Regions from separate parts of the Homo sapiens genome. Here region 2 is linked to region 1. Evidence: fine-mapped expression QTL. A gene starts in region 1. The other region holds a variant in brackets. All regions are shown on one strand. Distances are between the middles of the regions. Region 1 holds the start of TGFBI (transforming growth factor beta induced). Region 2 has its middle 29 kb from the start of TGFBI.

What was found. PIP is the estimated chance that this variant, and not a neighbour inherited with it, causes the effect.
Region 2: its variant is fine-mapped to the expression of TGFBI in whole blood (TOPMed, PIP above 0.99).

Annotation. Positions count from the first base shown.
Region 1 is chr5:136,017,334-136,032,586 of GRCh38, reverse strand. TGFBI (transforming growth factor beta induced) reads right to left here and starts at 3,599. Exons shown (of 17, transcript NM_000358.3): 1 at 3,398-3,599. The coding sequence starts at 3,531. LOC105379189 (a long non-coding RNA gene) reads left to right here and starts at 6,694. Exons shown (of 4, transcript XR_948809.3): 1 at 6,694-6,769; 2 at 7,645-7,724; 3 at 7,808-7,928; 4 at 10,726-11,029. RefSeq lists an enhancer at 1,313-1,382.
Region 2 is chr5:135,992,373-136,007,625 of GRCh38, reverse strand. No RefSeq gene overlaps it. Among named protein-coding and RNA genes, the nearest start is that of TGFBI, 29 kb to the left of the region's middle. RefSeq lists an enhancer at 5,759-6,260. The variant G/A (reference allele first, on the strand shown) is at 8,153.

The DNA.
Region 1 (15,253 bases):
TTTCTTTAACATCAATTTCCCTGTTACTTTAAGAATGCCATCCACAGACATCACTTGATGTGCAGCGTATTTGTTAAGAAGACACCAATATTGCAGTAAAAACTACACCTACTGTCCCCATCATGATTCCTCTGCAGGAACTTGAACAATTCTCAAATATTCAGAGTCAGGCTTTTGGGTGGGAGTCCATTCTGCCCCTTCATTTCTCTGCCCTGTCTCTTCTGCGGTGATATGACTGTCACCTCTTGGCCAGTTTTTTGTTCAACAGGTGAAAGTGAGTGGGCCCAGGAGGGACAATGAGCATTAATGAATCCATGTAAGGATCTAGGGACAAGAGAAGTGAAGGCTGGAGAAGGGACCACAGCCAGCAGAGGCCCATGCCTCCCTAGTCCTAGCTGGGCCTGACCAAATCCTCCAGATTTCTGAATACCTGGTTTCTGTTTGCTGCCTAGGATTCACAGGTTAGACAGTCCCTGAATAACCCCTGAAGAGTCCTTGCTGGCCATACTCCAGCCCCCGGTCCTATTTATTGTTACAGAATCCCAGAAGCTCTTCAATCTGATCAAGCAGGAAACAATTACTGTCAATGAATTCCCTGCCACTTTCCGTAGGCGTTTGGCGAATCTTCAGTGAGTCTCTTGTGGATGTGGCTCCAACATTCCTTTGCTGAATGTTTCCACTGCTGCTGTCCTTGTGGCAGCAGCAGAGGCTGGGGGCGGCTGTGACCCTCTCCTTCTCACATCGGGGAGTGTGGGTGGGCTGTGTACATAGGAAGTTCATGCTGAAGCTTAATTGAAATGAGCAAGTTGCTTCTGGGCCTCAAGAATAACAGCATTGATGTTCAGCTTAGATTTGAAAACCAAGTGCTTCAGGAAATTCAGTTCAGTTTTTGGTGGTTGATGTTTGGAAGTGTGATTGTATTTTTACTTCTCTTTCAGTATTATTTTTCCCCTTCCCTATAGCAACACAGATATAGCTGGGAGTCAAGAGACCATATCATAGTTATTACTCTCCCAACAGCATTCTGTGTCTGAACTAAGTCACTCTCTACCTCACTAAGCTGCAGTTTCACCTCCTGTAAAATGGGAACATGAACAGTAGATCTCACTGTGTTGTGGTGAGGTCGAAAGCAAAAGCGGCAATCGAGTGCTGCGCACAAGCAAGGCACAGCTGTTATTTCTTCCTTCATATCAGGCAGCACGCTACAATTCCTTAAAATAGCAAAGTTTTCCTTCCCTTTCTAACAGTTTTCACTTTGAATGAAAGGCTGGAGCTAGAACAACGTTATCCATTTGCACAAGGCGCCACAGCCCTGTGTGCCAGGCCAGGCAGCCCTGTGGCATTAACAGGGACAGTTAGATCAGAGTAAATACAACTGTGCCTGCAACCATTTTGCCATGGTTCATGTGCCTGCGCATCCAGATTCTACTGGGACAGGGGTGCTCCTGTGACTTCTTAGATTACTCTGCCCATCACAGATTACAATAGGCCTTTCCAGCTGTGCTGCAGGAAGCTAATTAAGAGGCTTTGCCTGCAGGGGTATGGTGGGGAAGTTGATCTAATATCTGGAACTCATAATCAAGAGCATCTGCATTTAAGAAAAAAACCCTGTTTTCCAGCTGGTCAGCACTCTTCTGGGCTCTGAAGGGAAAGAGGTTTGCTGTAAAGATGGCTCTTGATGGAAAGCCCTCAATACCTTTGAGGATCCTTCACTGTGGCTGTGCAGAGAGATGCCCTTACAGGTGACACTGTTGCAGGGCATGCTATAAGGATCTTCTCCTGACTTAGTGGCGAAGATACAGAAGAAATAGAACCCTCCTAGGCAAATTGAGGCACCCAAACATAACACAATTCATTGGCAGGAAAGGCAGAGAGACCAACGGAGAGGTGGGCAGAGATAATAAAAATGCCAGGTGCTTGCATTTTGATGTTGAGGCCTCATATCCCTCTCATCTTTCTGACATCCCCCCTCACTCTATTCTGCACACTGCCCAAGTCAAAGCTGATTCTCCCACTTCCAGAAAGACCCCAGGATATCCCCAGTATTCTCCTCTTTCCAGGAGGGTGTTGAGGTTGCAGCCAGGCCTGGTTTGATTTCACTCTGCAGGGTGGCCAGATGTGCTCCCAGCAGGCCCTCTCCGCCAGAGCCCCAAACTCCTGAAAGGCCTAGACCATAAAGCCACAAGTAGAGGAAACAAGAGCAACTATGCCCTACAAGGGGCAGCCTGTACCCGTACCCAGAGCACTCCTAGTGCAAGGAGCCAAGACTTTCAGGGCCTGTGAAGTCAACTCTATCACCCCCAACAATGAGTTTTGATTTGAGCACAGATCTGCCCAGTCTCTTGGAGGTTTGGGCATTGCTTGTGGGTGTGAACGCCAGACCCCGATGGTATTTAGGCTTCCTCTGAGGAGTCACTACAAGATTCTACTCATATATAGTTTTACCTAGTTATGAAAAAGAAGTTGGTGCAACCAGGTAGGCTGGAAGCTGCAGCAAAGCCTGGGTATTTGTGACGCAGGTATGGCCTGGTTTTTGAGGTAGAAATGTTGCCTGCCTCTGCCTGGGTCAGTATTAGGGCCACTATCAGACCAGACCTTCTGCTTGAGTTTGTCTCCTAAAGCCAACACATCTTCAGGGTCTCAAAGGAATTCCTGCAATGATAGTGTCCTACATTTACAAACCCAGCTATTACTTTAAGACAGACTCCAATCCTGGCTCCAGTGCACACTTCAGGACTGTGGGAAAGTGGAACCACTCAGGACTCAGTTTCCCCATTTGAACAGTGTGTGTGAGGGCCCAGTGCATTCTCCTGCTCTTCATCGGGCAGGACAAGAAGTGCCACATTGCCCTTGCTGTACCCAGAGAGCAGTGTCGGGTGCCAGCAGTGTCTGAGTGCAGGGCCTGGCCAGGAGCACAGGAGCCTGGGGCACCTTAGATGCTGCCACCGTGTGTGGCCCAGGTTCTTGTCTGGAGTCGCTGGCCGGGGGCCTGGCTGGGTTGGAATAGGTGTACTGCTGGGTGGGCTTTGCCCTTGGCACCCTCCCACGGTGATTATGGCCAAAGAGTTGCCATTTCCCCCTTTCTGCAGTGGCTGGGAGGAGAAGCTGAAAGCGCTGTCCGTCTCAGGCTCTTGGCCTGCGTCGAAAGTCTCTGGTCCACTTCCCCACTCCCTTCTACAAAGCGGCGGCCTCCCGCTTTCCCTCCATGGTCCTCCACCTCCCTCCCTCTCTCCTTCCACCGCGTGCAGGGCTGGTGTCCGAGCGCTCCATGCTGCAAGGTTTTTAGTTCGGGCTTTGTCCCCTGCGCCCCCAGCCCAGTTCAATGCCCCCAGCGGCTTGCGCTCCGAGCCCCGACTACCTGACCTTCCGCAGCCCCTGGCCAGGCGGCTCGGCTTACCCGTGCTGGCGGCCCCGGAGCCTGCTGTGCTGCAGCACCAGCTGGTAGGGCGACTTGGCGGGACCCGCCAGGGTCGCGGCGGGGCCCAGGGCCAGAGCCAGGGCGAGAGCCAGCAGCCGCACGAAGAGCGCCATGGAGCGGGACGACGCGCACCGAGCGAGCTAGCGACCGACGGGCAAGCGGGCGGCTCCAGGGAAGTGAGAGCGCCTCCGCCGCCCGGGCCAGGTTAAGTAAGCTGCGAGCGGGAGGGAGCGGACGCCAGGGGCGGGGAAGCTGGGCCGGCCCGTGCAAGGAGGGCGGGCCGCCTGGCGCCTCCCAACCCGTGCGCCCCTGGCTGCCCTGGGCACCCACCCGCTCCCGCACTGTGCCCGTGCTCAGTTTTCCCAGCCCTTGCCCTCACTGCCAGCCCTCCCTCCCTCTCTCCCTCGCCACAGTCTTCCTCAAACCAAGGGTATAGGTCCCTTAGGCCTCCTGTGGCTGCTTCCAAATGGGGACCTTGGGACTGAGGGACAGCTGTCTCGGGGGCTTCGGTCCTGCATGCTGGGGGCCCGAAGATTCCCTCACTGATCTTGAGGCTACAAAACACTGCAGGGAGGGGTGAGGGGAGGCAGTGCTGATTCCCAGAACACCATGGCCCATCAGACTTGTTTCTGCACCCCAGGAGCTGACCACCCTCCCCAGCTCCTCAATCTCTAATCCCTCCACCCCCACCCCACCTGTCATGCTCATTGAAAGACAGATGAGTAAATCGTGTGATCCACAGAAACGCCAAAAATGTGGGGCAGGTTTTGTTGGGCTCTAAGCTGCTTTTGGAGCCCGTGGGGAAGGGTGGGGTCCTCACCTTGGTACTAATTCATTCCCTTCTTCAGTAAACATCTCTGCAACAGTACCTGCCAGATAGATTCTGCAAAGGCAAGAGTCCTGCCCTGGAGGAGCTCAAGGCAGGTAAACAAATTGTCACATGGTAAAGAGGTGATACTTACCCAAGCATCTATTAATCACCTGTCAGTTACTTGGCACTGCTAGCCCTGGGGAGACACAGATGGATTAATAGAATGAGTGAGACCTAAGCCCTTTGTGAAAAAGCTCCAATTTGGGAAGATCCGTAGCCCAAGCCAATGATGTTCCATGAAGAGTAGCTGGGGCTTTGGGAGCTAAGAAGAGGCACCTGGCCCTGACAGGGTGATACCTGCTCTGAGGCCTGAAAGATGAAAATGAGTTAATCAGGTAAACTGAGGCATGCATTCACGAAACTCAAGTTATCTGGTTGGCTGAAGCACAGGGAGGTGGAGTCAAGGGTAGGGAAGAAGGGGAGGAAGGTAGCAGGGCCCAGACTCCAGCTAAGAGCCTAGCGGGTGATGGGTGGAGGCAAGTGACATGGCCAGTGTCATGAGAGGCTTAAGGAGGCAAGAAGAACAGGTAACCAGGAAGGGACCATGGGAGAGCTTGAACTATGGTGGTAGAGGCAGAGATGGGGAAGGCTGGGCAAATGTGAGGGGTGTAGGAGGTAATAGTCTCAATAGAATTTGGAGTCTGTATACAGGGAGAAGGGGAGAAAGGAGAGTCAAGGATATTGTAGGGTGTTTGTGGTCTGGACATTGCAGCAGGTGATGGTGCCATGTTCAGAATGAGGCACATGCAGAGTGCAGGCTTGCCAGGTAGATGAGTGGTTTGGGACACCCTGAGTCTGAGGTGCTTATGACTCATCCTGGTGAAGCATCCCATGAGGATAAAGCTGGATATGAGGATCGGGGGCTTGAGTGAGGGACGCGGGATGAAGATTCACACCTGGGAGTCATCCTCCAGTGACAGAAGAGCCCAGGAAGTAGAGAATGTGGGGTTGTAGTCAAGGAGGGGTATCCTAGTAGGAGGGCGCTGCTCAAAGTGAGGAATGCTGCCAACAAGACAGATCTGAATGGCTTTCACTGTGTCAGAAGCAGAGAGGCCACTGGGGACTTGGCTGTGGAGAGCAGATGGCCAAAGCCCGAATATGGTGGTTTGATGGAGAGATGAGTAGCATGTAGAAGCTTGTCTGAGAAGGGAAGGGGCGAGTTAGGATGGCAGCCAGGGAAAGAAAAAGACAAGCGGGGCTTGGAGAGGTTAGAACTCTGGTAGAAAGAAGGTGGGAAGGAGAAGGGAGAGAGTGTGGGCACTGGAGGAGGGCCTACTGAGAGCATAAAGCAACTGAGGGCCTGCATGGGGAGTGATCAAGCTAGTGGAGAGGAGGGAACAGGTGTATGGGAGATTTTAGTGGTAGCATTGATTAGACTTGGAAACCCCTTGGGCATGCAGGGTTAGGGAGGGGGAGTAGAGCTAACCTCGAGGCTCATAGCTGGCAGGAAGGGATGCCTGTGCTGGGCACGCTGGTGAAGGTGCACATTTGGGTGTGTGAGGAGAGTGCTCCATTTGTGTTCACATTATGTGTGAACAAGCCACCTGCATTTCCAGGAGGGATGGACAGGAGGGAGCTATATTCAAAGGTCTTGAGCTCAGGATAGGTATGAGGATTGGAGATGCAGATTTGAGTCACCACTACGAGCAGGTGGTAGCTAAAGTCATGCACTGGATGAGCTTCCTTGGGAGCAGGTGTTGGAAGAGAGGAGGAGGAGGAAGGAGAAGAAAAGGAGAAGATGGGTTCAAATACCAGTCTTTCTACTTCCTAGCTGTGTGGTCTTGGGCAAGTTATTCAACCTCATAGAGAGGATAATAAAACCTACCTCACAGGACTCTAAACTAGATTACATGATACAATTCAAGTAAAATGGCCAATAAATATGCATTGCTATTATTATTATTACCTCTCCCCAGTCATTGTTCTATATAGTAGGGTTCAATGAAACAATATGATAGTTTTGAGCAACTACAGAAATAATTATCTGAAAATGCTCATTTCATTTATTGAAAGCAAAACATTTCTCGGTTTCAGCATGACTGCTTGGCATAGGATAATGGGAAGAACCCAAAGGGATTCAAGCTCAGGCTGACTCCCAGAACAAGTTTCCCCTGAGACCAGTAGAATTTGGCTGCATTGCAGTTTCTAGGAAAAATGCTCCTTGTATGTAAGAGGCCAGGAGCCCTGCCATCTGGTTCCAGCTCTCTCTCTAGCAAGATTTAGGGCAAGTCAAGCAAGTTCACTGGACCTCACTTCTCCAGTCTGCAAAACTAACATTCGATGACTTGAGTTTTTCCATGAGCTCAGTAAAGAGATTGCAGTAATACTTTATTTATGGTTTAGATATTTTTTTAAAATCCCACATCCATGCCCCACCACCCATCCCCTCTTTCAAACATGAAAAGCAGAATGCTGTGAGTATAACCATTCTCCCACCTGAGGTTGCTGCTTCTTTGGAGACAAGAGTGATGCTGCTGGAGGTAAGAGCAGGGACCCTCCATCCCCAGATGACCCAGAGCCAACCAGGCAAACACAGAGCACCAGAAACCCTGTCATTTGAGAAAGAATTTTTTCCTTCCAGATTAAACAATCTAAACAGGAGAAAGTGAGGCTTGCTTGGAAGAATCTTTACTAGACTTTTTCAAGCACTTTTTAAAAAATGACTGCTTTTACATTTTGTGGCACATGAAAGGTCACCAAAAACATTCAGGTTTTGAAAATAATACTGTAGGGTATGACAACAAGCTTTATGCATCATGATAAATTAGTAGTTCCAACAAGTTCTTCACAAAGGAACCTAGGAAAGAAACTGGTTCTGGGCCTGTTGGTGGGAGAGCTGGCATCTGCAGCCCAGCTGACACCAGGCCTGCCTTTTCCTTACTCCCTAAAGTTCCTGGTGATGCTTGGGCATACATGGAGACAGAAGATACAGTCAAAATCATTTTCAGAGGCCACCATATAGCTAAATAAAGAGCTCTTAAAATTCAGCTCCCCAAGACTTGCTAGGGAGAAAAAAAGGTGAGTTTTGGCAAGAGATATCCAAATGAAAAGATGTGAATCAAATTTTGGGGAAAATTGCCATCCCTTGTGTAACACACAGAACTTAGAATGGTACTTCATATACAGTAATTGTTTTTTCCATGTTACAAATAAAGGTAAGAAACATCTCAGTTTACTAACATTAAGGTGTGATTGTAGTACCATTTAGGGGATTTTGGATTGATTTCTCAAGGATTTTCCACAGTCTTGCCACTCAAAATGTGATCTGCAAAACAGCATCATCAGCACAACCCCAGAGTTCATTAGAAATGTGGAAAATTTAAAAATTTTTTATTTATTTATTTATTTTTTCTAGCTCTCATGAAGAAACGTGGAATCTTATAACCTCCCAACCTCCCAAGACCCACTGAATCTGCATTTTCACCAGATCCCAAGGTGATTTGTATGCACAGGACTACAGGGTCATGTTAAATAGCTATGAGCTCAGAGGTGGTTAACAGAGGATTCAATTTATGTAGGCATGGAAGAAACGAAATACACCTGAAAATGTGTACCAGTGAAGTGACCACAGAGGAACTCTCATCTTCCGCTGAGGCCCAGCTCACTTTGTGGAAGACCTTCAAGATGCCCAGGCACAAGGTCAGTAGTTGCATATTCAGTGTCTTCCACACACTGGACAGGGAGGGGAAATTGGCCACAGTCACCTTCCATTCTTCTCTCTTTTCAAAGCCCGCAAGGGAGGCTGGGATAATCGACAGGTTTGTAATGGCAGGAACTTAAAACAAACTTGAGGCTTCGGGCTCTGCAATTGATGGGAACAGAACAGCCGTCGCAGCCCTAGAATGGCATTAGGCCCCAGTGTTTAGTTTCTTAAATGACTTGGCTGTTTTCACAACTTCTCCAAACACTGGCTTTCTTAATCAGGGCCTGCCAAATGCTACTTGTTGGTTAGAACCCAATTTCATTTTCCAGGGAAACCGATTTTTCATGAGAGTTTCATTGATTTGGCTCAGCTAAAATATCTAAGAAGAATCCAGAGGCACTTTTGAGGTTGCTTTAGTTGCCTGACCTCAAATACTTTAGTGGAAGGATGCCCACAGATGATTGTTGGCTTACACATGCCTTTCCTCTGCTTCCCACGAGTTTTCTTGCACGTAGGATAAAGGCCTTCAGGGAAATGGACACCACCCAGCAGCAATTCATTCCAAAATGCAGAAATCCCTTGGCTCTTTCGTCCAGCTCCCCTTCTTCATTTCTTCATTCTTGCCTGTGGTGCCGCTCAAGGTTGGAAACCTTGCATTCAGTTTTGCCTGTCCCTGCTCTCTGGTCCCCCACGTGCAATCAGTCACCAAGATCCTGCAGGTGTTCTTTCCAAATCTCTCCTAGATGCTTCTGTTCCCTCTTTTGCTACTCAAATACTCCAGCTCCCCACTGCCTTACCTCTCACCACCCACAGCCTCCAGCCAGTCTGACATCAGCTGCCACCCCAGCCAACCATCTCCCAACGTGGCTGGTCTTATCTTCCTAAAACACTTCTACCAAAACACTGCACTCCTAGGACACTCCCGATGGCTTCTATTGTTTGTAAAAGAAAATCCAGACTTCTCTGATTGTTTATTTATTTTTTTGATGAACATTTTATCCTCCCCAGCACCCCACCATGTTAAAAAGGAATACAGGCACATTACCAAAAAAAGAAAAACCTTAAAAAATACTGAAAAGGCTAGATAAGAGGAACACACACATCCATAATCCCTATACTGAAAGAACTTCCCATGTATTGCCCTCTTTCTACTGTACCTGGCTTCTAAAGTCCTCTGCAAAATTCCCCCTTTGCTTCATGTAACCTGCTTTCCCTGTGTCCCAGTCTCAGCCTGGGCTCTTGCAGGGCCAGCCTGTGCCTCTTCCACCCACTCAGCCCCCCACCCCCAGCCTTGCTCTGCTCCCCGTGTAGTGAGCACTGTGCTCCTTCTTTGCCTCTACACACGTATGCGATACTCTCCCTCCAAAACCAGCTTTGCTAAGAAGCTTTGCTCAGGCAAATTCCTTCACCTCTCTGGGCTGCTGTTTTTTCAGCTGGTCTCCCTTCCGTGGCTCTCCCACTGGATGGAGCCTCTCCTTTTTGAAGTCTAACATCCGTCATCACAGTGAGCCCATGTGTTTGTTCCTCTGATTCTCTAACAGCCTCCTAATAAGTCAGCACGGAGCCCAGTTAGCATTTGCGGATCCATCAGTTGACTGGCTTCCTAAATTCTTTCTAGCATAATTCACACTTATTCTAATAGAGTGGTCAGAATAGACAAAGACATTTGTTGGCTCTGCTGTAGGTGACTGCTCCACCATATGCTGTGGACTAGACTCATTTGCGTGGCCCTCTGGGTCAGGCAGGGATTCTGAAGGGCTTTAAAGAACATCGGACCTGGCTCCCTCTCCAGCTTCCCTAGCACAGGCCTTAAGTCCCAGCACGAAGGAGAAGGATCGAGCTTCTCTGGGGCCGGTGCTCCCAACATCACATCCTGATCCTTTGGAAGCTCCCTCATGCTAGGTGAAAGAAAGTCTCTGCTTCCCCAGCTGCAATGTTGTGCCAGCATTAGAAGGTAGAAAGGGGAAGCAGGGTTGATGCAGCCATGACTGATGGCTCCACAGCAGCCATCCTGAGAGCCATTTTCAAAATTCCTAAGAATTTGCTGCTATCCTGACCCGATCCACCCTACTCCAAAACACCCTGGACATTCAAATCCATGGTATAGAAATTAATTTGTGCAGGCTAAAGAGCTGGTGAGATGAGAGCCACCATATTTTGCCTGCTGGTTTTAACATTTTAGAACTTGCTCATTGTCCAGATCAGCACCTTTGCCCTGGCATGAAAGGACAAAAATTAAACCCCATGTAGAGTGCCCCATGATACCCACCCCAGACTTCTCTGGACCCTCCACTGCCCCTCATCTAACGATTGGGCACTGGGCCCAGTGGCAGGCCAGCCATAACACACCCTTCCCCAGTCTTTCCCAGCATTTTCTTCCTCAGTCTTCCATCCATGGGACTCCTCATATTTCACTGGGACAGGAATGGGGTGAATGCTGTGCTCTACATAAACCACATAGTGCTCTGTAGTTAAGATACAAATGTTTAGAATGATTTCTGCTTCTAAAGACAACAAAAGCAAGAATTAGCCTCCAAGCTTCCTCCAGATGAGGCTATGTTTAGGAAAGGCTATACGTTTGAGAATGATGCAGGGAAGAAAGCAGAAGGAAAAAAAAAAACAGTAGGAAAAAAAAAACAGTGCATGCATGTGCCCACGTAGAATACTGGCTTATTAAAGAAAAATAAGAGTTTACCAATGTCAGGTACTATTCTCAATACCTTTATGTGTTAAGTCATTCCATCCTTAAAATACTCTTATGGGTTGAGTACTGTTCTCTTTTCTGTTTTCCAGATGAAGAAGGCAAGGCTGGAGAGGTGAAGAAGTTTGTTGGAGTGGTGACAAAGCTAGTGGGTAGGAGAGCCAGCACTTGAACACAGGCAGCCCAGCCCTAAGTACTTGTCCTACCTAAACCACTATGCACCCCCTCCCCAGCTAGGGTAGTTGCATATTTTTGGAAAATCCTTGATATGGTTTGGCTGCGTCCCCACCCAAATCCCATCTTGAACTGTAGCTCCCATAATTCCCACGTGTTGTGGGAGGGACCGGGTGGGAGATAATCGAATCATGGTGGTACCTTCCCCCATACTGTTCTCGTGGTAATGAATAACTCTCATGAGATCTGATGATTTTATAAGGGGAAATCTCTTTTGCTTGGCTCACATTCTCTCTTGTCTGCCACCGTGTAAGACATGCATTTCACCTTCCACCATGATTGTGAGGCCTCCCCAGCCACGTGGAACTGTGAGTCCATTAAACCTCTTTTTCTGTATAAATTACCCAGTCTCAGGTATGTCTTTAACAGCAGCATGAAAACGAACTAATACAACCTTCAAACCTTCTCCCTTGAACACATTTTCACTGAGCAAGACTCTAGCAGCTGCTGTGGTAAGTGAGGCAGGCTTGGGGAAGAAAGCAGCCAGCACGCAGCCACTCATCCCCTTCTCCAGACAGACAGGGGACCTGAGCTGCTGGATCACTCTCTAGATGACCATGAATCAGCATTCCTTTCAGTGGATCAACTAGAATTGCTTAGTAATCCTCAACAACCTTTAATTCCTCATTTAATTACTGATGAAATAGCAATTAAATGTGCCTGAGAAATCTTCAAACTCGTGGCACGGTCATTTCAATGAACATTTGATACACCAAAATCCCAGGACAACAAAAAAATTAAAATGACCTCCAGGGTGCCTAGAAAAGATTTTCCCACGTTAGTTAGCACATTCCTGAAGTAACAGTCTAACCAGAAGTTCAGTTAGTCCTGTTATTCTACATTATTTTTAAAAACTACTACTGACAACATATGAACAACCAGCTTGCTCCAGAAAGTGGTTCTTGATCGATTCTACCAATATTTACTGAGTTCATGTTAGGAGCCCAGCAGTCGGCTGCTTATTACGGTTCTAGACACAAGTGAGTCATTCTTTGGTGGGGAGCCAGGCACATATACAATGAAATAAGTGCCAAATGCATGGCTATACCCAAAAGGACTCCAAAGGGAAGTACCCAACCACACACCACACAACGGGGGTGGGAGGGTAGCAAGGATTGGCGGGGGGAGTTTGGGGTAGCCGGAGGGAAACCAGATTCTTCCCAGAAGGGATGATTCATCATCTGGTGGACAGTGAAGCCAAGTCATCAAGGTAGACTGCAACTCATCAAAACAGAAACCGGAGACGGGGTTAGTACTAGAGACAGGATTGCTGGTCTGAATTTCTGGTTCTTGTTAGCGCTTTACAATTCCTGAGACATATATAAGCCTGAAAGAAATGCTTTCCTCTGTATTCACTCTTAATGGCCACGTTTATTCCTCCCTCTATTGTAGAGAGATCTACTAAATATCTTATGACTTGATTTGGTCCTTCTCAAAGATAGGTTCAAGTCTTCTCTGTGGGCACTTTTCAAACTCCAAAACCAATAAGCCTCAAGGTAGGCCCCTAGCCCTTGTGGAGTCTATTTATACCTTTGGGGCACGATCAGCAACTAACATCACATAGCACTGGTGCTACACAAACATAATTCAGGTTCCTTCTTAAATTTCTAGTTACTTACAGTGAAGGAGGCAAGGAAGGGCAACAAGTGTGTATCTGTGTGTGTGGGTCTGTGTGATGTGCAAATAACAGACTCCTCTATCTGTGTGTCCAGATCCAATAAGTACAAATTCTATCAAGCCCTTGAGACTGACAGGACAGAGTTCTGCCAAGCTGAGGAGGGGCACAGAGCTCAAGACAAAGCTTAAAAAGGCTTGGCTCAGTGATTAAAGTACAACACAATAAGCAACTTTAAAATGTGTTTATTTAGATACAAACTCCATCCAAGACCCCATAAGTTAGACCTTGGCCTGTTTTCGTGAAGTGGTGTGACGGCAGTGGCCTTTTAAAAATTTAGTTTCTGTAACTTACTCTGGGGACATAGGTTGATCACTCTAAATCAGTATGTTAATAAATAGAGCAGCAGAAAGGAAGGCTGCAGGGTCATGAGACCCAGGCTTGCATGCCTCTTCTTTCTTGATAACTGTTTCCAGATGTGGGTGTTGGCACAGTATCAGCTTGATGACAAAAACGAATGAAAGTCCTTTCTCCCCAGCTAACAGCAGGCGGCTACTGGTTCCGGCAGAAGGCCTGCTTGTGTTTTCCTTTCAGAGGTCTCACGTGGCTGAAAGCATTTGCCTCTTGCTGAATGTTTACCTGGCATACGCTAGGAACAGCAAATGACACAAGAACCTCAGTGCAAGATGTCTCTTGAAGAAGAAGGTGGTAGAAAAGTGCATACATCTAATAATCCTAAACAACAGGGAAAGACACGGCTGGATTTGGGGTAAAAACATCTCATCACCAAGGAAATGATATGCAGGAAGTCGTCAGCTCAGGGTCCTATTCTTATCATAGATGAAATGGTTGCTTCCGCTAGTGTTCTGGAGGGGAGAGGTGAGAGAAGATTGTTCCTGACTTCAGGGTGCCTAAGAGGAGTCACATACGCATGACACAAAACAGACATATTAAAGGACTCACTAAGGACAGTTGGGTCTGCTTTCAGTAGAGAAAAGATGTGCACTTAGGAAGTGGTAGTTTCTGGCATGGTTCAACTGGCCTGTCTCCATGTGTGTGGAATCTCACCTTTGACCTCAGACCTTGGTCACGTACCAGGCAGGCTGCATGTTGCCCAAGGCTTGGAGACCAGGCTAGCTGAGCTCAGACTTCTCACATTCTGCTTCCATCCTCCTTTGACTTTTGGGAAAGTCTCCTCCTGCTGATTTTCATTTGCTGGCCAACCCGCTTGCCACAAACCAGGGAAAATCAGCTCTGAATTTTGAAAACTGGAAACATAAATTCATTTGGCATAAACACAGCTTTCTCCAGCAGACACACAGGAAGTAAGCTTACCTATGTATGCGATGGTATCATGGACCACCTTAGAGCCTATCATAACTAGCGTTCAGTTGGTGTGGATGGTGTAAGAATAAATTTCATTGCTCTCTAGGACACAAGGAGCACTTAACTTATGGATTTCCGGGAAAAGTTTCCAGCTAGGAATGCTCTAAAAGATTACCAAAAATCTTTGTTTTCATGCCTCAAAAGAAATATCCGATCTCAGCTGGTTTTGACTTGTTGGTGACCACAGCTTATTTCCCAGTGTCATTTGCACGAGTCAATTTTGTGGACTTGATCAGAAAGCCTTGAAGGGTGTGAGAAGAGGAGAACAGATGGCTAGCAAGGGCCACTTTGGGACAGCAAGAAAGGCCGAGTCCATCTACTGGTGACTGGATCTGACCTGTCCATGATAGAGCCAGAGTCTGAATGGACAATCCTGCTCTCTCATCCCTCCTGCCAACCCTGTGCCTTTCCTTGGTCTTGGACAGGAAATGCAGAATGAGACAAGCCATCCATTGCCATTCATCCATCCCACAGGATCAGAGCCCCAGCCCCAAGGCCACTGGTTATGAATATCCCTTGCAGGTGAAATGCTCCTATTAATACATAACCCTGAGTTTGGGATAATGCATGAAAAGATATTTCAGAGCATGGCTTCCTGTAGATACATGTCTTAAGGGCCAGTAGGTGGATTCTGTTAGCCCCTTTCTGGCCAGAAGGGATTCTATACAGTGCTGCCCAGGCCCAGGGAATGTATGAAATGAGCTCCAAGGAAGCTTCGGAGAGGTCTCCTTTTCTAGTAAGTTCCACACCCACTAAGCATTTATTAAAGTGTCAGCTGTGGATATTGCATAGTCAAGCAAATACAGGGTAAACACAAAAGATGTAGAAGGTCCTTCATGTCTTCCAGAAGCACACCATTGTCTGTGAAGGCCAAGGAAAGGCAAGAAATCAAGTTCAAGACTGGAAAACATACATTTTTATAGCCAATTTACTAAAATATTTTCAGTTCTCTGAACCTAGCATGCTTTTTTTCCACCTCCAAACCTGTGAACACAGACCTTTATTCTTGCTGTCTGGCTTCCATGTGTCCATGAGATTTTAATTTAGACCACACTTTCTCTGGGAGGCCTTCCTTGATGCCTTCAGCCTGGGTAGGTGCCCTTTCTGTGGGCTTTTACTGGCTCCTTTTCTTCTCCCACCATAGCATCTATCAGTGACATGTCTGTTTTCTCTACCAGACGGCAAGTTTGATGAGGGCAGGGATAATGCCTGCCTTCTTCACTACCCCATTCCCGGTATTCATTCATTCATTGGTTAATTAACTATGGAGTGCCTGGCATGAGCCAGTCAAATGATGAAAGAGAAAGGTCACTGTGAAGCTGTATTAGTCAGGGAAGGCAACTTGGGGGAGGTGCATTTTGAGATGTTCTTTGAGGAAGTTGAAA
Region 2 (15,253 bases), 25 kb after region 1:
TGGTACTGGGGAAACAAAGAAGAATGTGATCTTTTTGTTGGGTACAAGAGTTCAGGCAGTGAAGTCCCAGAAAGCCACAGAGAAAGATCCTTTGGGACCTGTACACGTTCCCCTCTTGCAACACCTCACAGTTGGGAATTATGAAAGCAGTTCTCCCTGCCCTTCTTTCTCCCTAAAGTATTGGTATATGTGAGTGGGATAAGTGTGAGCAATTTGTCCTGAAAGGAGAGGGAGCTGGAACAACCAGTACTTGGGAGAACTTGTGATTATCCTGTTTGCGTGACAACAGCCAATTAAATTATTTACGCCTCTCAAGTGCATTTTGCATCAAGTAGAATATCTGGTCTTGGCGCTATTTTATAATCTGCTAAGTTAGCTAACTGCCCCTCCTGTCCTGGGTTGCGGCAAGGAGATGTCTTGGGACAGAGTAGAGGGTATCGGGGGGCTCCTGCCTTTAGAGAACTCGGGACGACAGGCAGCCAGCCGTGCCCATGTGTGGAGGGACAGAGTACAGGAGTCCCTGAGGTCCCAGGTCTTCCTTTTATTGCCCCAAGGGGGTTCACACCTAAGACCAGCCGTGCCAAACAGCAGGGTGCCACTCTGCTCTTTACCATGAGGCTGACTCACCTCTACATGTCAGACAGTAGAGAATGTGGAATTCTGAACAGAAGAGAAAAAAATCCACTTGGAGGCTCCAGACTAGGCCTCAAGGTCTCTGGAACTCAAGGAGTCTCTGCACACCCTGATGCATCAGGAGTTACTCACTTGTGCCTTAGATTCCTTGTCTAAACTTGGCCTAACAAAGGGATCATGGCTCATTGTCAGAATGAAGTAACGTCCAGCTCCTTATGGCTAAATTATGAATCAGTCATAAGAGGGATAATTGACTTCTTTTAAAAGGAAGCCTGAAATCCATTTTCTGCTATATTAGGTGCACACATACACAGAGGCAAGATGACTTGAGTAGATCAAATGTTTGTAAAGTGAAAAGTTATACAATGTATGGGCCAGCTCCTCTGAGGAAATCGAACAGAGACAAGCTGGAGAAGTGGGAATGGGGCATAAGAGACAGCAGCCCTCTGGGGGCACACGAGATTCTCCCTGGCACAAAGGCGGGACACTGGGAAGTATCTGCTGTTTCTGTTCCTTTGGCCCCTGGAGCTGACCATTCAGCTCAAGGTCAGCCAGTCCCTCATTTCTGCAGTGTTCCCACTGAATCACAGCAGCCGAGAAAGATGATGAATGTTGGAGCTGGAGGCACACTGGAAACTAGACCAATCCCCTCATTTGTAAACAAGGCAAGAGAGTTCCAGAAGGGAGCTCTGCCTCATCTGAGGTTACACAGCAAGTCCGTATTGGAGTCACGAAAGGGGAGCCGGTGTTCCTGATTCCCGGCCCACCACGCTCCCAGGGCACCCTCGTGATACACCGTCTGGTATTGTTAGTTATTTTCTATGATACGTGTGTCTGTCTTAGCGCCCTAATGAGACTACTCCCTCGGTTGCTTATAGCATTTTATTCTTTGTGATCCCCCGTGGCCCCTTAGTTAGAATTTTCCTCAAGACTTTAGTTTTTAAATGATTCTTGGTTAATAGCCTCCTACCAAGCTGCTCCCAACTTCTCCTGAAAATATCCAAGATGATGTTGAAAAAAGTAAAAACGTTATTCTGTGAGTTAAGATCAAGATTCAACCTAAGGCCAGGCAAGAAGCTGGATTGAAAATCTCATTTCAGGGCCACCCACACTGTGTGCCAGGGAACCTGCCCCTATAACCAGGAACACAGGGCTGTGCCATGCAAAACTCGGGTGCTTTCCCGGGGGGCCCCCTGGCTGCACGGGACCCCCTCCTCATGGCCTTGGAGATGCACAGGGAGGAACTATGGGTTCCACAGTAGCCAGGAGGAGAGTCCCATGGGCACGGCACTGCAGCCACAGCCCACGATGGCAACGTTGGAGGGAGGCATGCCAGGGCACTGCCCTTTCTACACATTCCATTTCTGTATCATGTCAAGGAGCTACATGGTGGGGTAGAAGAAGATGGATTTCAGTTTAACAGACGTTCAGTAAACAAAAACGTGTGGTCACTAAGAACAGCACTAGAAGCTGCACACCACAATCGGCTGCTCAACTGTTTATTTAACAAGGCTTTTGATAGACACCCAAGATGTCAAGGGCAGTGACAAGTACAAACCCCTAAAACTTCTCTTTTATAAATCAGTGGGTCTAGATAGACCTTTCACTATTTGAGGAGGGGTGGAGGGGTGGGGACTGGGGGGAGAAAATCATGAAACTTCTGAAAAAGTACTCAGGTTTGCAATTAAAAATGTTTTTAATGCAATATCTGAAAAAAAAAATTAAGTCAACAAGGAGCAGAGCTGACACCATAGAAAAGTGAATCAGTAATGTGGAGGGCAAGAATGAGATCAAAGGAGAAGAGCAAAATGATGAAAATGATGAGGAAGGACAGGATGATTCGGTCCTCCTTCTCTGTCCTGCTATATCCAAGAATTACAGAACTTCTGAAGAAAGAAACCCACTCAAGTGGGAAGAAAGCAATAATCAAAGATATCATTAGAGAAAACAGCCCTTAGTATGCAAATCGAAATGGCCCATAGCATTCTAAAAAAAATAAATTTAAAGGGGGCTGTCTAGAAAAGAGTTCACCGAGCAGGCCTGAAGACTGCAATACTTAGAAAGGCCTGCTACTAAACACCTGCTCTCTTGGAATTTTAGTTCATGCTAGACAGAAGGACCTACATGATCATGATCAGACCCCAGTAAAAAAAACTTGTGTAATGGGTCTCTGATGGGCTTCCCTAGACAGATACATCATGCATACGTTGTTTCATTTTTCTCACTGGTGAAGAGTAAGCTGTGCGTGACTCCTAATGGGTGAGAGAGAGCATGAGGAAACCTGCACATGAATTCCTCCAGACTGCCTGTGCCTTTTCCCTTCATGAGCCACTCATATATCCTTACAACACTGCTGTAATAAATCTTGGCTATGAGTACACTTTAAGCTGAGTACACTTTAAGCTGAGTTTTGTGAGTCATTTTAGTGGGTTTCCAAACAGCGATGGACCTGTGGCCTAGGGGATCCCTGACAGAGAGGCCTCACTGTGTCACAGGGGCTAAAACACATTCTAGCAACATATTTGAATTATAAGACTAATTTGTTTTCATGTCATGAGCATTGAGGGAAAAAAAATACCTCTTTCAAAGTTTACAAAATTGGTTGGCTTCAGACTTGTCCTTTGCCACCCTGTATAGAGCAGGCTTTAGAAAGTTTTGAAGGAAGAAAGTTAGGATCCAGTAATTTTGCAGCCTTATGAAGGCAACAGACAGACATTCTTAGACATTCAAGGACTTGAAATAGACTTATACTAGTGACTGAGGTAATAAACTTGAAGAACACAGGCCGGGCGCAGTGGCTCACGCCTGTAATCCCAGCACTTTGGGAGGCTGAGGCAGGTGGATCACCAGGTCACAAGATCGAGACCATCCTGGCTAACACCGTGAAACCCCATCTCTACTAAAAATACAAAAAAAAATTAGCCTGGCCTGGTGGCGGGCACCTGTAGTCCCAGCTACTTGGGACGCTGAGGCAGGAGAATGGCGTGAACCCGGGAGGCAGAGCTTGCAGTGAGCCGAGATCACGCCACTGTGCTCCAGCCTGGGCAACAGAGCGAGACTCTGTCTCAAAAAAACAAAAACGAAAACAAAAAACAACAACAACAAAAAGGGAATTCTGGATATGCAGCTCTTCTTTTATGGAGCATAGATCCCAAATTCAAAAGTCCAGTTGGACTGTGTTATCAGAGAATTCTGAGATTTTATGCTTAGCCCTTTGCTATTTCCCTAAGCTGTCCTTGGCTTCTGAAATTTTATAAGAAGACCAAGAAATTAATTTCTTATGCCATATCTTTCACCCTACAATTTAGGAAGTATCACCTGCAATGACGGATGGCCACCAAAGCTATTACGCAGTGTAGGTCTTTCTTAATGATTGTTAAACATAAAGGATGATGAGACCTATGGGTCTCAATTTGTAGGAGTACCTGTGTTGAGGATTGTGGCATTGAGGATTACTGTATTGAGCAAGATTCTGAGCCCCTTCTGAGCTCTGCGGGAGAGAATGCAGGGGTCAGTGAGTGACACCCAACCTGGGGAAAAAGGGAGCAGGGTGGTACATTCATTTCTTACCTGCTATTCTTGATGTATATATTCAGAAGATTGTGGTTTAAAAATTAATAAACAAAAATGACCAAAAATGAATATAAATACTTTCTGTAATTGTTGTGCTAGAAAATAAAATAACCGCAACTTCAATTTTAAACAATAGGACAATATCTGTATTTAATGCTAAGGTTTACTTAATATTTTAGGTAAGACAGAAAAAAAACTTTAAAAAATAAAATACTGTAGGAAGAAAGTACCAAGAAAAAGATTGATAGATTAGCTGCATAGCATTTTTGAACCTCTATTTCACAAAAATACAAAACATCATAAGCAAGATAAGAAGGCAGATAACAAACCGAGAGACATGTTTGCAACACAGGTGGCAAAGGATCAACATCCTTAATGTAAAAGGCTTTTGCAAATCAACGTAAAAATAAATTACCTAATAAATTACATTGTGTGAAGAGCATGAACATTGAGTTTACAGAAGGTTAAGTTAAAATTGACAATGAATGAAAAAGTTTCCTATTTGGATCACTAAAAAAAATGAAAGGTATAAAAAGGAATCATGCATTTAAAAAAATCTTCTTTGCTATTTTCGTAAATGAAAGATTATAATGCTTAGTGTTGCAAAGAGTAAAACTTTTCTTAAAGGCAATTTCCCTCATCTTTCAAAACTTCTTAAAGTATCATGCATGTCTATTAGCTCAAATTCCACTACTGGCAAATCAATGGATATAGCCTTAAGGGTATCTGTATTGAATGATCATCTCAGCATTATAATGACAACATTTGGAACAACCCAAAGTCAGGGGATTGGCTAAACAGGTTCAGCTAAATCTATGTAATGAGATATACGCAGCTGTTAAAATCATGCATACAGGACTATTGGTTGAATAGTCCCCATCTACTGCTTAGTGAAAAACAGGACACAAACTGCCTTGCATTTCATGTATAGTGTGTACGGTGGAGGTAGTTATGAGCTGTGAAATTTGGAGTTACCCAACCTGCAACTGAGTCCTGAGTCCTGGTCCCACCACACCTTCCTGGGTGATCTTGAGCGGAGCTCCTGCCCCTCTTAACTGCAGTGTCTTCATTTGTAAAAATGCTGTTAATGAAATTATTTACTCATAGGGTTGTACTATATGCAACCTGAAATTATCCCCTGCGAAGTACTTAGAATACTGCCTAACTCAGCAGCGTGCATTAGGTCCCGATATTTTTTTTTAATGATGCTAAAAAATAATCAAGAAAAATAGACCACTGACAGAACACATCAAAAAAAAATCTTGATAATGGGGCTGTTACTTTTTGCTTCTTTTCATTCTTCTAGGTTTTCTGCATTAAACGTAGAATACATTTACACTGTTCATAACACACACACAGGCAGACACACACAGACACACACACAGTAAATATCGACTTTACTAGGAGGTTACTATGAGTCTTGGGAAAACAGCTGAAATCCATCTTTCTAGAAAGAAAAGGAAGAAGAAACGGCCAAATGAGGGGGAAACCACCCCCACACTCTAGGAAACACAAGCTCCCCAGCCTCTTGGCCTTCAAGGCAGAGGAGGGCCACTCCCCAGCCTGCCAGCCAGCAGGCCATGGGGTCACCCTGTGGGGCCACACCCCATGCAGGCTGCATACTGCCCCATTGTCTAAGCATGGCCCCACTGAAGTCAACGAGAAACAGATGGTGAGAAACATTTCTGCTCTTCCACACCTAGGATGCGGTTCTGCTCTGAGCATCCAGCACCAGTGAGGCAATCTGCTTTTCATTTATGGGCAGAGAAAAGCCACAGAGGAAGGAATGAGGGAGGCCATAGTTCTCAGAGTGTCGGAGGAGTTGATGCAATAATAATTCAATTCCCCCTACTCTGAAAAGCAAGGCAGTCCAACCCGGCAGGATGCCTGCAGCCAGGGCTGTAAACTCCAGCTCACCTCAGGCTACCTCCAGCTGAGCAAGCCCACACCAGAACCTGTGGGCCTGAACTCTTGCAGGGGAAGAGTTCAAACAGGGCCTTTTCCAGTTTGCATCATGTGGCAGAGCCCTGTAGCCAATCAGCTGGAAGCGAGTTCCAGGTAGGTGGGATGGGAAGGATCTGGACTGGGGGGCCTCCTCACAAGGGAATCATCATGGACACTGGCAACTAGGGGGTAGCTCCTCTGGCCAGTGTAGTTCTTTCTTCCCTTTGCCTGGGTAGAAGCATGGACTTTGAAGCCAGCTGTCTGGGACCCTATCCCAGTTCTCTGCTTACTTGCTGTGTACCTTAGGTGAACTGCTTTAACTTTCTGAGCCCCTGCTTCCTCATCCGAATTGTGGGCATGAGACTAGTGTTACCCAACAGGAAATATGAAGACTGCAGGAGATAATCCATAGGAAGTGTCTACGCTGTGCTTGGGTCATGGAAAGTGCTCATTAACTGTTAGTTATTATTATTATTATAATTGCCAGATTCTCTCTGTGTCTTATTTCCTCTTTAAACCATGGCATAATTTACACTATGACACGCTCTTGTGCATAATTTCTTCTCATAGTCCTAACCAGTTGTAGTCTCTGCTTGAGGGTGATCTATGCCTGTGTACCCTCTATCGGTCCCCCTGGCAGTCACCATCCCTCTGGACAAAAATTTGCGTGGTCTTTGGAATGAGTCTGGGTAATTGAGTGGCAGCCAACCTCTGCCAGCATCCTCCCTCATCGGGAGACTGTGGAGCAGGGGCAATGGTCTCCTGAGCCAAAGAACAGCTTGCAGATGGCCCCAGTGAGAAGTGCCACTCTGAAGCCCTAAAAGATGATAAGGGAGAGTAGGAGAAGCAAGCCCAGAGAAGAAAGAAAGTGGAGAATGGTCCCCAGAGGAAGGGAGGCAAACAGGGAGCAACAGTTACACAGGTGACTGCAATGTGAGAAGCATCCAAGAACGGACAGAGTTTCAAAATGCTCAGGAAAAAGCAAGGTGCAGTCTTCTGGATGTGGTGGCAGAAAAGACCCCAAGAGAAAGACATCATCAACATAAAAGCCTGGAAAAAATAGGGATCATAAAGATGCCTGTGTGACTGACAAACAAATTAGAGGTGTAGGAAAAGAAAAGAGCGGGAATGGCAGGTTGCAGGTAATTGAGATTTTTCAGAACAAGATGACAAGTAAACTACATCAAAGCATGTCCAAGTCAGGTTTGACTGGCAGTTTTCCCTGAATGTGCTAATTACTCTTATTTGTTCTCAAACAAAAATTATTTATTTATCATGAGGGCTGAGGGCCCAGGGTGTGGGAGAGCATCTTCTCTCAGCAAGCAGGTGAGTAGCTCAGTTTGAATGACGGAAGATACATGACTATAGAGCAACACAGTCACTTTTCATCAAGATTGAACCCTATGGCTATATCTTTGAGAAGCCACTGCATCAAAGACCTGGCTCAGATAAGAGTTTCCGGAGAAAAAGAGAAGGTGGCAGCCAGAATAACTGTGATACTGTCCTTTTTGTACCAGCCAGGATAGGCTAGGTGATGCTGCAGTAACAAACAATCCTAAATCTTAGGGGCTTTAAACAACAAAGATTTATTTCTGTCATCTGTGCCACAAGTCCATTTCGGGTTGGCTGGAGTTCTGTTCTGCATCCCTTCAGGGACCCAGGATAATGAAGCAGCCACCGTCTCAAACTGCTAGTCACTATAGCAGAGGACAAGGGAGTTGAGACAACACACACACTCACACACACACACACACACACACACACACACGGGCTCTTAAAACTTCAGCTCAGAATGATAGACATCATCCCTGCTCAGATTTCACCAGCCACAGTCAGGCACATGCCTATACTGAATTGCAAAGGGGATGGGGAAGTAAAATCCCACTTCCGCTGCTCAGAAGAAGAAACAGAATGTATGTGAACAGCCCTAATGACTCACCAAACATCCATTCCAGGAGCAGGCCTCCCTGCCCGTTACTCAGCTGCCCCTCCCTTGGCCTGC[G/A]ACCCCTTCAGTGGTTCTCAGTCATCTCTGCCCCTGTCCCCATCACTATCTTCAAGGCACATTTTGGATGAGATGATTGGGCATAGTGCTTCCAAATGGACTCTAATCATAAAATGAAGGAGAACACAGACTCAGAGTATTGGTGCAGAGCAGAATCTCTGAGAGGACCTAGCCCACAGCCCCTGCCTTTCTAGATGGAGAAATAGGAAGTCAAAGGAAAAACCATGTGCAATGCGCAGAATTCTAAGATGGGTCCTAAGATTCCTGGTCCCTGCTGTGCAGGCATCATCTCCTCCCTTTGAGTGTAAGTGGGACCCGTAAATAAGACTGGCTGTCACTCCAGTGACATGTTACTTTGTATGGCAAAAGGGACTTTGCAGATGTAATTCAGGCACTCTCCTGCTGGCCTGAAGGAAAGTAAACAGCCATGCTGTGAACTTCCCGTGGAGGGGACCTGCACGGCCCTCTAGGACCTGAGCGCAGCCCCTAGATTGGCTAGAAAATGGGACCTCAGCCCTACAACTGCAGGAACTGAATTCTGATTACCGGGAACCCTGAGCTCCAAATGAAAACATAGCCCTGGTTAACACTTTGATTTCAGCCTGATGAGATTGTGAGCTGAGAACCCATCTCCTCTATGTCCAGACTCCTGACCCATGGAAACTGTGAGATTAAACAAAAAAAGCCACTGTATTGTTTTAAGCCACTAAGTTGAAGGTAATTTGTTACCCAGCAATAAAAACAAGTATGTGAAAATGGGAGACTGTGTAGCAGGGCCATGGTCTCCTGAGCCGAAGAACAGCTTGCAGATGGCCCCAGTGAGAAGTGCCACTCTGAAGCCCTAAAAGATGATAAGGGAGAGTACGAGAGACAAACACCTCTAATTTGTTTGTCAGTCACACTGGCATCTTTATGATCCCTATTTTTTCCAGGCTTTTATGTTGATGATGTCTTTCTCTTGGGGTTTTTCTGCCGCCACATCCAGAAGACCGCACCTTGCTTTTTCCTGAGCATTTTGAAACACTGTCTATTCTTGGATGGCTTCTTACATTGCAGTCACCTGCGTAGCTGTTGCTCCCTGTTTGCCTCCCTTCCTCTGGGGACCATTCTCCACTTTCTTTCTCCTCTGGGCTTGCTTCTCCTACTCTCCCTTGTCATCTTTTAGGGCTTCAGAGTGGCACTCATCATGGCAGTGGCAGGTCCTGCAATTTGAGCAGTATTCAAGGCCTTTTCGTGATTTCTGTCCCACTTGCTGAACACAAACTCTCTATTCCAGGTCTGGCGGCATCTTTGCAGCCTCTCACCTGCCAGGATTGCTCCCCCTGTGGTCTTCCTCTGCCTGCTTCCCAGGGCAGGGCTCCATCCAGCGTCATTTGATGGAGCTTTCACATGCCATTCCCCAATAAAATAAAATGCCCTGAAGTGACCCCGGCCCCCTGTACTCTTCCATTCTCTGCCGGTTCCATAGCATCCAGCACAACTACAAGCCTCCCTGCAGTTGATTATATCCCAATCATATCCAATAATAAAATTCCACGAGGATTAAATCATTTAAATTGTCTCTTTTTGCCAAGACTTTAAGCTCTCTAAGGGCAACAGACGTGTTTACTCCAGGTGCTACATCAGGAATCAGAAAAGGCATTTGTACTTGTAATACACCAAACTGGAAACAGCCCAAATGTCTATCACTGAGTGAAGAGAGAAACAAATTATCTTATTTCCATACAATGAGATACTGCTCAGCTAAAAAAAAGAACAAATTATCCATAACATGCTATAACATGGGTGAATCTCAAAATCGTAGGCTGAGTGTAAGATATAAATGATATCTACTGTATGATAATTTACATAAAAATCTAGACAAAGCAAAACTCATCTATATTGACAGGAAGCAGGTGGGTGTTTGCTCATGGCTGGGGTTGGGGGGATAATGGCAAACGTTGCATTCTGGGGTGATGGAGATGTTCTGTGTCTTGATTGTCGTGGCGGCTATGTGGATGTACACGTTTGTCACAACTCATCAGATTGTATACTTAAAATATATACATTTTATTACACATAAATTATGCCTCAATAAAGTTGACTTGGAAAAAAATCTTTGTATATTCTGAGTCAGCTAAAGCTTTGTTGGAAATGCTTTGAGACATGATTTCTCATGTCTCATGATTTCTCAACATGATTTGAGAAGGGTGAGCCCAAGAAAACATCTACAGACTTCTGTTTAGGTAGAGCCATCTCCCAGAGACAGATGAGCTCCCAGGCTGAGAGCAAAGATATGCCTCAAAAGGTAAGTTAACCGACTTAAAGAGAGATTGCTTGGCCAGAAAAACCCAGAAAAAGAACAGAGAGGATGGCAAAAAGGACCCATGTATTCAGGCGGAAAGGCCTAGATTGGGGGGTTCAAGGATAGTCTGGCTGTGAGCTCTCCCCATGCTGTGTGGTGGGGTGGAGCTCTTTCAGCGGTCTCACCATGGCCCAGAGAAAGAGCTTTTGGGACCAGCCACACTGCTTTGCTCTGAATCCACAGCCACTCCACTGGCCACCAGCCTGATTAACTTCTAGGGAAGCCGGGTCCTGGGAAGAAGGCATGAAGTTTCTAACAAATATGAAGGCATCATCATCTGGATGAAGTGTCAGAGGACCATAGTCCAGGCAATGCTGCCTGCTGTGGCTTTTGATTAGTCAGGCATGACCCATTCCTCCCACTGTCACTCAAGACACTGCCCGGAGAGACAGGCACAGCCAGGGCAGCAGCCAGAATGCTGAGGATTTTGTGGGTTACCTAAAGCTGTGGAGAAGCCAGCAGGGCTCCAGACCTGGAGAGAGCCCCATAAAAAGAAAACATTCCCTTCTTTGGTAGAAAAGAAATGATACCCGAGCAGCTAGCAACCCTGACTGTGCAGAGGCAAAAACCAAGTTCTGAGGTAGGAAAAGAAAGTGTTTGTGTGAAAAGCCCGGGGGCTTGGAAGAGCCTCGGAAATGAAACAGGAAAGGAGGGAAGAGAACAGGAAAGCTCAGCTGGCTGCTGTGGGGCTCAGTGGCGAGGCATGAGCAGCAGCAGAGGCTGAAAGGGGCAGAGAGGGTGCTCACAAGGAAAGGCAAGGGGAGGAGAGCTCTGCAGTCTTAATGGGGGCATGGGGGTTGTGTGTACAATGGCTGCAGGGTGGACCCTCCTCTTGACCAAACCCCAAGTGCCCTCCGTCCCCCTGAATTCCAAGCATGATTATCAGCACTACTTTCCACTGGAGTCACCCAGCCCAACACTTGTGCGCACTGCCCTGACTCCAGCACTCCATAACCCAGCCGTCTAGACTCTGCAGTCTTCTGGCCCTAAGTCAGGGGTTGTCCACTCCTCTCTGGGGAGATGACTAGAACCTCTTAATTAGCTTCTCTCCCTCCCCACTTGTTAAACCTTATCAGCAGGTACTCCATCATGGAGAAGGAAACCAGTGCATGTTAAGCATTTATTATCCTAGGCATTTTAATTATAATTCTCATAACAGCCAGATGAAGAAGGCAGCACTATCTCCATCTTATGAAGAACCCGAGGCTCACAAGGGTTTAGTGATTTCCCCAAATTCAAACAGCTAGGAAGGGGCCAGCCGAACCAGGATCTCAACTTTCTTTCATCCACTGCTCCCACGTGGATCTTAAATACAAATCCATTCAATTCATTTCCCTGGTTAAAATCCTTCAGTGTCTTCCCACCGCTTACAGACATGTTTCTTTCAATATTTTTTGTCCTTATAGAACTACTTTCTAAAAAAAAAACACTTGTTTTACTTTATTTGTGCTAATATAACAAAACACCACAAGCTAGGTAATTTATAAACAATAGAAATGTATTTCTCACAGCTCTGGAGGCTGGGAAGTCCAAGATCAAGGTGCTGGTAGGTTTGGTATCTGGTGAGGGCTGTTCCCCACTCCCAAGATGGTGCCTTGAGCACTGCATCTTCCAGAGGCGAGGTATGCTATCTTTGCATGGCAGAAGGCGGAAGGGCAAAAGGGGCAAACTCCTTCTGCCAAGCCCTTTTATAAGGGTATCTAATCTTATTCATGAAGGCAGAGCCCTCGTGACTTAATCACCTCCCAAAGGCATACCTCCCAATACTGTTGCATTGGGGATTATGTTTCAACATAGATTTTGGAAGGAACAAAAACATTCAAACCACAGCAAATCTTTACATGAAATGCTACCCTATCACACAGAAAACAGCAGAGCTGACCCAGTGTGAGTGGGGGTAAGGCACAGCATCCTGTCTCTACTTTCATAGTTGACATGTCCACTTGAAGTTTCAGCACCATGTCAGTTTGTTTAAGGTTGAACTCTTGATCTAACTCCCAGTATCTCCCAGAGTTTTCTATCTTAAAGAATGGTTGGACCATCCATTCCAGAGCCTGTGAGCCACCTCTCTCACCATCTTCACCCTCATCCTCCTTAAGTACATTCAATTTTGCCTTCTACATCTCCCTTGAAGAAGACTTTGTCCTTCATTTGCACTTTCATCACCCAAGCATCCAAATCCAAGCTCTTACAGCCTCTTACCTAGAATAGGGGCACAGCCTCCTTACTTGCACCACAGAGCCCTGGCAGTCCACCCCCAACACAGTACTCAGACTGTGCTGACAGAAAATTCCCAGCAAAAGGAGAGGGCCACTCTGACATGGAATGTCCTGACATCCAAGTGTCATTATCATTTAGCAACCTCCCCCATCAAATACGACAGTATTTCCTCTTACTTATTATTTTATTAAAAAATGTTATAACTTTGAGATGAAACTATGCACTAAAAAGTAAGCTAAGGGTCAAAAGAATTGAGGGCTGGTTGTTTGAGTTGCTGTGGGGCCACTGAGTTTCCCCAGCTATAGAGCAGAGTTAGTTACTAGAATCTGCTTCTTCTCTCTTGCCCACAGTTGTTATGGAAATAACTTATGTAAAATGTTCAGAATTAATTACAATGAACATATACAACTAAAGCACTCTTATGTCTCACTGACATGAAATAATAAATTTGGATATATGGACATCTGGTTGACAATGTGACATTCCAAGATCTAAAACAAATTTGATGATGTAATTAAATACCAATCTTTCTACTTTTACTTGTATATAGGACAAGATCCCTCGCAGAACCTATTTATATGTATACTTGGAGCTGGCCTCATGGTCACATAAATCATAGGAAAATTTGGAGCAGATGTTGCAGGGTAGCTGGAATTCTCCTGTTAGGACTGCGTTTTAATGGAAAAATGACACAGAGCAGACTTCCCACATGCTTCACAGATAGAGTAATAGAGCTACTTGAAAGGAACATTTATATTCTAGATAGGCTGATTTTTAATCAACAAACGTGATTGCTTTATTATTGTCTGGTCTCGGATGAGTCATTCAGCAGAGTGCACAGGCATTTCCGGACAGGAGGGGAATGGGCCACAAGGGAGAAAGCTTTACAGTACCTTGTATGTCTGTCTGTCTGTCAGTGTGGCCTTGAGCTCTTTCTCCTCTTGCTGGTAGTAGAGATCTTCCCTGGGGCCTTTGACAGTGGCCTCCCATGGGCTTGCAGCCTCAGAAACTTTTATTTGCGAGGAAAGGGGTAAATGTGAGCTAAACCTGAAATCCCACGAATTACAGAAAAGAACTTGTTGGCAGCACACACGCAAAGATTTTCGAAATCCTCTGTTTCGCTGGTGTTTATGCATTTGAGCCTGTTTCATCTGAAGTCATTGTTTTGAGCCTTGTTTGGAAGAATTTTCCAGACATGATTTTCTAGGGAGGAAGAATGTCATTCAGAAGACAAAGGCCTGTGCTTCTGAGATAAAGTAGGTGATGTTCTGCTTCAGATGGCCTCTGGCTCCCTGGCTTTTATCCTCCCTTTCATGTTACCAAGTAGAGCTTCAAGAGCCGTAGTCCAGATTTTCTTCTGCTTCTTCTTTTGTAACTTGGAAAATGAAGACGTAGAACTAGAGTGTTCATTGTGGGAGGTCTAGTGGATAAATGGATGAGAAATGACTTAAGCCAAACAATGACTCAATTAGATTTTCTGACATAGTATCAGTTTGTTTAACCCTGCTGATCCAATGAGGTTAGGTGTTCTGAATAACTGAGAAGGGTGTTCTGACATAGAATCAGGTTGTTTAACCCTGCTGGTCTCAGTGAGGTTAGGTGTTCTGAATAACTGAAAACACCTCCTTAGTCGGGCAGCCATCTTTGATTTCAGGGGAGGTTTGGGGTGGGTGCTCCGAAGAACAGGGACTGTACCAAGTGCCCCCTGAGTGTGTGTGGGGCTTGAGGAAGGGGGAGACACAGAAGACACGCTTCTCTTCCTGCTCTGAGCCCAAGGGTGCAGAAGGCCCCGCCATTGGTGTTCATCAGGAGAAAGGCAGCGGCAGCCCCAACTCCTGGCTTACACTGCCTCAGAGTAGCAGGGGTTCAGTGTGGCGGAGTGAATGATAAGATGAAGAAGAATGACAAGCATGCCTTGAATCGGACAATCACTTTTCTCGTTGAGGTAATTACAAGAATCATGAAAAGCAGGTTAGATATTATCAACTAGTTTTATACAGAGAGACTTGTGCATGATTCAAAAGAGTCAGTGCCAAAGCTAGACCATGTTGCCTTTGTCATTTAGATGGATCGCTTACTGCATTTACCATTGGAAGCTGGTTGGCCTACATGCTTCTGCATCCTAGGAAGCTCCCACACTTAGATCCTCTGAGGTATCTTCATAGCTTTGCAGTACATGATTCCTAGATAGACAAGTTTGGAGCAACCGATAACCCCTATGTCAAAGCTGAATTTGTTTAGATATATTTTATGTACATCAAAATGGAATTTACAATACATGTCAAAACCAGAGGGAAAACCAGTGGCTGTGATCTGAATTTGTTTCCCCAATGTGATAGTACTAGTAGATGGGGCCTTTGGGAGGTGATTAGGTCATGAAGGTGGAGCCCTTGTGAATGAGAAAAGAGGCCCAAGGAAACTTGCTTGCCCCTTCCACCACATGAGGACACAGCAAGAAGGCTCCATTCTATGAACAAGGAGGTGAGCCCTCACCAGACAGTGAATCTGCCAGCACCTGGATCTTGAACTCCCTAGCC